Linked DNA regions of Homo sapiens. The protein of the gene in region 1 purifies or fractionates together with the protein of each later gene. This does not show direct contact. Each region holds a gene or a part of one and is shown in the gene's direction. Other genes may lie near its edges.

Region 1 (3,500 bases):
CTTGATATTTTCAGCAAGGGGAGGCCAGGCCTCCGGTCAGAGCCCTGGGTCTGCAGCAATACCCAGCTACAGTTCAACAGCATCATAGTGTTTTTTGTTTTCCTTGGCTTTCTTTCTTTCTTTTTTTTTCTAGACAAGGTCTCACTCTGTCACCCAGGCTGGAGTGCACTGGTTGCACAGCTCCGTGCATAGTTTCCTGCAGCCTCTATTTCCCAGGCTCAATCGATCCTCCTGCCTCAGCCTCCCAAGTAGATGGGACTACAGGTGCGCACCACCACACCTGGCTAATTGTTTTTTGTTTTTATTTTTGATAGAGACGAGGTCTCATTACGTTGCCCAGGCTGATCTCAAACTCCTGAGCTCAAGCAGTTTTCCTGCCTTAGCCTCCCAAAGTGCTGGGATTACAGGTGTGAGCCTCCATGCCCCACCCTTGAGTTTCTTTTCGATGATACCTTCAGTTCGTGGCAAGTGGTACTTCAAAAAATAAAGTTAAAAGTGACATGGTTTCTAGAAAAGCTTTAAGGAAATGGTGTTCTGGCTTTCAGATAAGTCAAAAAAAATCTCAAACATGAGTAAAGAGTTTTGGAAATTATACACTTACCCCTAGAGGGTGAGTTTGTGGGGGAAATTTCATAATGTATACTTCCAGAATATTTAGAACTTTCCAAATGAGTACAGGTTATGTTCGTAAACAGGAAAAATAATAAAGACATAATAAAATGATAATTTAGTTTTAAAAGACGACCATTTGTTGAAAGCAGTATTATATTTCAGTTAGGAAATGGCCTCTGGAATCAGCATAGATTTTATTGTTTTATTTATTTTGTTTTTGAGACAGTGTCTCACTCTGTTGCCCACACTGGAGTGCAGTAGTGTGATCACAGCCCACTGCAGCCTCAACTTCCTGGGCTCAGGTGATCCTTCTGCCTCAGCCTCCCAAATAGCTGGGACTATAGGTGCACACCACTATGCCAGGCTAATTTTTTTGCATTTTTTGTAAAGACAGATTTTCACCATGTTGCCCTGGCTGGTCTCGAACTTCCAGGTTCAAGCAATCTGCCTGTCTCGGCCTCCCAAAGTGTTGGAATTACAGGTGTGAGCCACTGTGCCCGGCCAGCATAGATTTTAAATCCACCTTTTGTTGCTTGACTTCTTGGAGCCTGTTTCTTCATCTATGAAATGCAGGAAACGTGCCTGGAAATATTGCTTGAGATTCTAATGGGGAGGTGCAGGTGGAATACTGTAGCCTGATGCCCAGCCTATGCCGGGAACTCAGTACATAACAGCCAATGAGCATTGGCTGCGGACTGGACATGTCCCCTCCTTGTGCTGTAGTATTAATGTCTCCAACCCTCACAGTGATCCTGTGAAGTAAATGTAAAATCACCACCCAGATGAGGAAAACAGTGGCACAGAGAGGTTAAGAAAACTGTCCAAGGTTGCACAGCACTAAAATGTTGAAATCAGGATTTAAACCCAGCCCTCCTGACCCCAGAGGATCTTTTTTCAAAAATTATGTTCTTTTATTTTATTTCGAGATGGGGGTCTTTCACAGTCACCCAGGCTGGAGTGCAGTCACAATATCACGGCTTACTGCGCCTCAACCTCCCAGGCTCAAGTGATCCTCCCACCTCTGTCCCCCAACCCCCAGTTGCTTAGGAGCACAGGCACACGACACCATGCCTGGCTAATTTTTGTACTTTTTGTAGAGATGGGGTTTCTCCATGTTGCCCAGGCTGGTCTCAAACTACTGGGCTCAAGCGATCCTCCTGCTTCAGCCTCCCAAAGTACTGGGATCACAGGTGTGAGCCACTATGCCCAGCATTAGAGGCTCTTTTAACAGCTCCACAATTCCCTGTGAGATGGGCTGCATACAAAGCATTACTCCTGCTTGACATATACACAAACCATGGCCCAAAGGGAGCTGGGACTTGTCCGGATGTCAGCCTCTAAGTCAGTTTTGGGTCAGTGAGACCCAAAACCAAGGCTCTAGCCGTCTAGCCCCTCCAACCTTTCTTCTGCCCCAGTTTTATGGGTTTGGCAATGTCTGCCAGGATGGGAGGGAGCAGTTCAGATGATCCAGTCTGGAGGCAAAATTCTGCTAAATTCAAAGGGCCCAGCCTCAAGTCACTGATGTCTTTTTTTTTTTTTTTTTACTTTAAAAAAATGTATTAATTCTAAACCACACAAGTAAGACACGAATCAGTCTTCCTTGCAGAAAGTTAAACTTTTTATACATAAAGCTGATATCTATTTTACTCACTGCTTCCAGCCCCATGCCTGTCCCCTCTCCTGCAGTAACCCCTATTTGATATGTTTCCAGAACTTTATCTAAACCTTCACATAATAAAAATAATTCTTATATAGGGCTTACTAACTTCCAAGCACTGCTTTAAGAGCTTTACATATTTAAGCCCCACAATAACTCTGTGAGGTAGGTGCTGCTCTTATCCCCATTTTACAGATGAGAACATTGAGGCCCAGAGAGGCTATGTAACTGGCCTGGCGTCACCCAGCCTGCAGTTGGTGGAAAGGTCAGTCCCAAATCTAGGCAGCCTTGCTCCGAAATTCATGCTCTTAGCCTCTAAGTTATAAAACATGCTATTATCGACCTGTGGGAAGAAACAGTATTGCTGTTTGTTGATGTGTATTTTGAGACAAGTGATATCATGTTGTGCATATCATTATACAATGTGTCTTGTTTATTCCATGATACATCTTGAAGATACAGCCACGTCAACAAAAAATAAGTCCCTTTCCTGTACATAATCCCACAGCGTGGTTACACCAAACTTTATTATGGCTGTCTAGGGTGTTTAAAGACCGCTGCTGGAATTTCTTTATCCAAGACTCTGTGTGTCTTAGCCCATTGGGGCTGCTGTAACAAAGTGCCAGAGACTGGCTGGATTCTAAACAATAGAAATTTATTTCTCACAGTTCTGGAGACTAAAGTCTGAGATCAGAGTGCCAGCATGGTCGGGTTCTGGCAAGAGCCCTTTTCCGGGTTGCCGATGGCGGACTTTTCATTGTATCCTCACATGGTGCAAAGCAGGCTAGAGCATTCTCTTGGGTCTCTTTTATAAGGGCATCAATCCCATTCACTACGGCTCCTCCCTCCTGACCTAATTACCTCCCCCAGACCCCAGCTCCTAATACCCTCCTATTAGGGGTTAGAGTTTCAACATGTGAATTTCAGGGGAGCACAAATATTCAGTCGATCACATTGTGTATTCTGGGCCCCAAGGCTGTCCATTTTGCTTTCTGCTGAGAAGTTTAGTGGTAAGGTCAAAGGGTAGAAGCGCAGTAAGATCTAGAAGTCACTGCTGATTTGCCCTACAAGATGGGCAAACCACTTCCCAGCCTGCAGCTCTGAGCCCTGGATCCAGGCCTTCTCTCCTTTATGTCTCGAGCTTACTCTGTCCCCTGCCTTACTTACCAAACCAAAGCAAGACTCCTCTGGGACATTCCTGCCAGGCCCCATGGCAAGGTTGGAGCTGAGG
Region 2 (4,018 bases), on another chromosome or scaffold:
GATTCAAGCATTGACACTGACTAAAGAGAAGGTCCCGTTAGAGCGAAATGCTGGATCCCCAGTGTATATGAAAGGTGTCACTAAGTCTGGGATTCCAATTTCCTGGTACCGAGATCTGCACGATGTTCCAAAAGGTAATTACCTTTATGTGGATTAATGAAAGAATTTTGATCACAACCCTCACAGTATTGATGGGACTGTAACTTTTTACAGCAATATAATAGATTGAGTTACTGCTGCCAAGTCCCTTATCCATAGAGAGTAGCCTACTTTTTTCTAGAAAAGAGCATCTTAATAGAAAATAAAGTTGCCTGACATTAAGTAGTAGTTTATTTCATGAAGCTTTGTAAAATCCCAAACAAAATGTAAATCTCCTTTGTACTTTTGAGTATTTCCCTATAGCTAGGGTTGTACCGATGACGGAGCAGCCCAAGGCAGCTGGGGCTGATGGAAGCAGTGTTAGTAGGTGGGTTTAGTTCAGTTATAGAGTCTTTTAAAAAATCCTTACTTGCCTAAAGACAAGCAAGGTGTGGGGGAAAATCCCTGTACTAGTCAGGAATACTGACTAGTATTGACTAGTTTGAGTCTTGACTCAAAGCCAAAGTGGGGGTACGATCTTGGGTAAGGGATCTCAAGCCATTCCTGCCTCAGCCTTCTCAGGCTGAGAAGCCCGATTTTATGAAATCAAATTCCCTTCCAGCTAACAACTCTGACTTCTAATTTCTTTCAAGCCTTGTGATGAATAAAAGCTTTAACTGCTATTTCAGGTATTTCCATTTTCTGACCCCATTTATGTGTAAAATAAGAATAGTAATAATTGTTCTATGTTCTGCAGTGTAAGTTTTCCATGAAGAGGTAGATAATTCTGTGGTAGTGATGATTATGGAGGAAGTAGGCATTTTTTTTACAGTTAATATTCAAAAGAATTAATTCCTGTGAAATGTGGAAACATTAATTGTTTTCCTCTTTTTAAATAGGGTACAGCTTTTATCTTGCACATGAATTTTTTGATGTTCTTCCTGTGCATAAATTTCAGGTATTGAGGGGGGAAAAAAGTCATGTCTATAATTGAATACAAAAGGCATTGTGTTGCCAATGTTTATGGTATTTATTCAGTATACAAATTTTACTTGTTGAGGTTATTTTTAACTATTATTTGGAATTTTGGTACACAAATAATTCAAAAGCAAAAAATGAAATATTAATGAGAATTGTTAGTTCTCCTGGGATAATTATTAAGAATTCTTAATTCTTCTGATTTGAAGAAGTAAGGGAATGAAAAATGGTAAGATGGTAACTGGCTGTGGTGCAATGAAGGATTTACTTAAGCAAAAAAAAAATTTTCTTTTTTAAGAGATAGGGTATTGCTATGTTGCCCAGGCTGGTCTTGAACTCCAGGGCTCAAGTGTTCATCCTGCCTCAGCATCCCAAGGAGCTGGGACTACAGGTGTGCGCCACTGCACCCAGCCAACCTTAGCACATTTTAAAAAATTATAGATTAAACTTTTTTGGGCCAGGCATGGTGGCTTACACCTGTAATCTCAGCACTTTGGGAGGGCGAGGTGGGTGAATCACTTGAGGTCAGGAGTTCAAGACCAGCCTGGCCAACATGACAAAACCCTGTGTCTACTAAAAATAGAAAAATTATCTGGGCTTGGTGGCACGTGCCTGTACTTCCCAGCTACTAGGGAGGCTGAGGCATGAGAATCACTTGAACCCAGGAGGCAGAGGTTGCAGTGAGCTGAGATTGCACCACTGCACTCCAGCCTGGGCAACAAAGCGAGAGCTTGTCTCAAAAAAAAAATAATAAAACTTTTCTTCATTCTTTCTGTGAGGAGATTTAAGATTTGGTGATAATGTATATGTACTGGTAATTTGTGAGGAGAAGAGCAGCTCTCATGATCCTGTAGTAATTTGTTAGTAAAGCTTCTGGCTGTTCTTCCTGAGTCTATTTCCGTTTTTGGGGTACTTTCCATGCTGCTGATTTTATCTTCCACAGCGTCATCTCTGTTATTGTTTCTTTTGCATCGATTGGTCTACTCATTGTTCAAAGGCAATGAAGTAATGAATTTAAGTAATTTTAAATAGTAAGTTCTCTGTAAATGTTAGTTACTTATGGTAAGAGGAGAAAAAGCTATTTTTGGTAGAAGCAATGTAGAGAACAAACTTGCAAAAATTTGTTTTTATGTGTTATTTTGTGTTTAGAAAACACCACAGGGATGGCGAGAAGTATTTGTTGACATTGATCCACAGGTTTCTGATAAACTGAGGTTTGTTTTGGCACCTTCTGCCACCCCAGCAGAAGCCTTCATACAAGTAAGAATATGCTTTTTTAAGTTTCTTTTATTGCTCACAGAATCTTCAAAGTCTTATTTTCTGAGTTACTACTTTAGAGTTTTAGAGTTCCTTTACAGGAAGAGTTGCTAGTAGCATACGAGGTGCTTTTTATTGACAGTGAAAGTGCAGAGGAGCTAGAGGCAGGAGCATGGGTTAAAATCATTTCTTAAGTGTGTGACCTTAACGTCATGTAGTAAGAGAAAGTAAGTAACCGCTTACTCAGCCAAGTCTCTTACTTTCACTGCTTATCTCAGTTTCATGTCAAATGGTAATGGTATTGTCCACAGGAAGAGTTTACATCTGTGAAAGCAATGTAGTACAGACTATAGTAAATTAACAATAACAGCTAACGTTTGTTGAGTACTTTGTGTTACTCTGTTTTCTCATTTAATTCTCAAAGCAACTATATTAGGTAGGTTCTATTATTATCCTTCTTTGGGCTACAGCATGGCTTTTATCCCATGCTTCCACACAGATCTCAGTTTGATTCGGCCAGAATGGTAGAATTACTACTGCTTTCTGTTGATCTCAAGGAATCATTGCAAGAGCCTGTCTATTGTGGCTTGTTTAAAGGTACAAAAAAATCCCTGTACTTCTCAGGAACGTCCAGGCTTCAGACTGCCTCTTTTTTTTTAATCCTTTTTTTCCAGCTCAGAAGATGATTTTTACTTTCTGGACCTTAACTGAGAACTTCTTACTTAGAAATTATCAGTTTTAAAAGCACAAGAGCTTTTAAACTTAAATGTATGAATTAAGTTTTGTTAAGTATAAATTTAAATGTCAGACTGAACACTTATGAACACCTGTTTTTTCATAGTATAGCAATCTAAGTTTACCTGAATGACATATTCATAGAACTACCAAGAACTAACCTCCTGGCCCTGGGAGTTCATTTAGTTCTTGACCTAATTAGTATTCACTTAGGAAGGGAGGGAGCGAATATTCTCTTTCACTTGAATGAGATGCGTGGTAATACATGTCATCTTGAAGAGTAGCCTAAGATAGAATGTCAGCATGATCAGCGTGTCCACTGATGCCTGATGAGGCTGACTTCATGGTTTTTATAGTTAAGCCACAGTAATTTGATTGCACTATTAGCTAAATGGTTAGTTATATTTAATCCTCACAATAAACCTACAATATCTATAAGGAAGAAAACAACTCAGAAAGTTTAAGTAACTTGTCTACCAGTAAGCATAGGAAGAGCTGAGATTTAACTTCATCTGACTCTATGCCTGTTACCATAGGCAGACATCAGGGCAGGTCATTACTGCATTTCTATAATAAGGTGTTAGGAAGGAGTACAAGTTAATGTATGTTTTCATAATGAAGGGAAAGAAATACCACATTTTCAATCAGATCAGGAAGTAGTGAAATTTCATATATACTAGTCAGGTTGACAAGTGTTAATACTTAGTGTGATTTTGCTTTTTAAGCTAGTACACACTTATTGTGGCCCCTTAGTTAAGTGGACATCTTGGGGTAATAACGGTTTCAATACATTGGCACTAGTTTATAAGCCAGCGTTTCTTGATGTAGGGCATATCATTGGGATACTTTCTGGCACAACAGAGGGCATGATAATATAATTGTCTAATAGGGTCTGCTTCGTGTTATTGGATTTATACCATTTGTTCTTTCAGCACAATATTTTCATTGACTGTTATGTGCCTGGCACTGT

What was found.
Region 2: the proteins of NLRC5 (region 1) and NDUFAF7 purify together in Homo sapiens (affinity purification with mass spectrometry; one large-scale study listed by BioGRID and IntAct). This does not show direct contact.

What each region holds. Positions count from the first base shown.
Region 1 is NC_000016.10:56,996,057-56,999,556, forward strand, and holds part of NLRC5 (protein NLRC5), read left to right. Parts: intron 1-3,500.
Region 2 is NC_000002.12:37,241,658-37,245,675, forward strand, and holds part of NDUFAF7 (protein arginine methyltransferase NDUFAF7, mitochondrial), read left to right. Parts: coding exon 1-134; exon of another isoform or gene 135-767; intron 768-977; coding exon 978-1,036; intron 1,037-2,205; coding exon 2,206-2,316; intron 2,317-4,018. UniProt on the Homo sapiens protein: Arginine methyltransferase involved in the assembly or stability of mitochondrial NADH:ubiquinone oxidoreductase complex (complex I).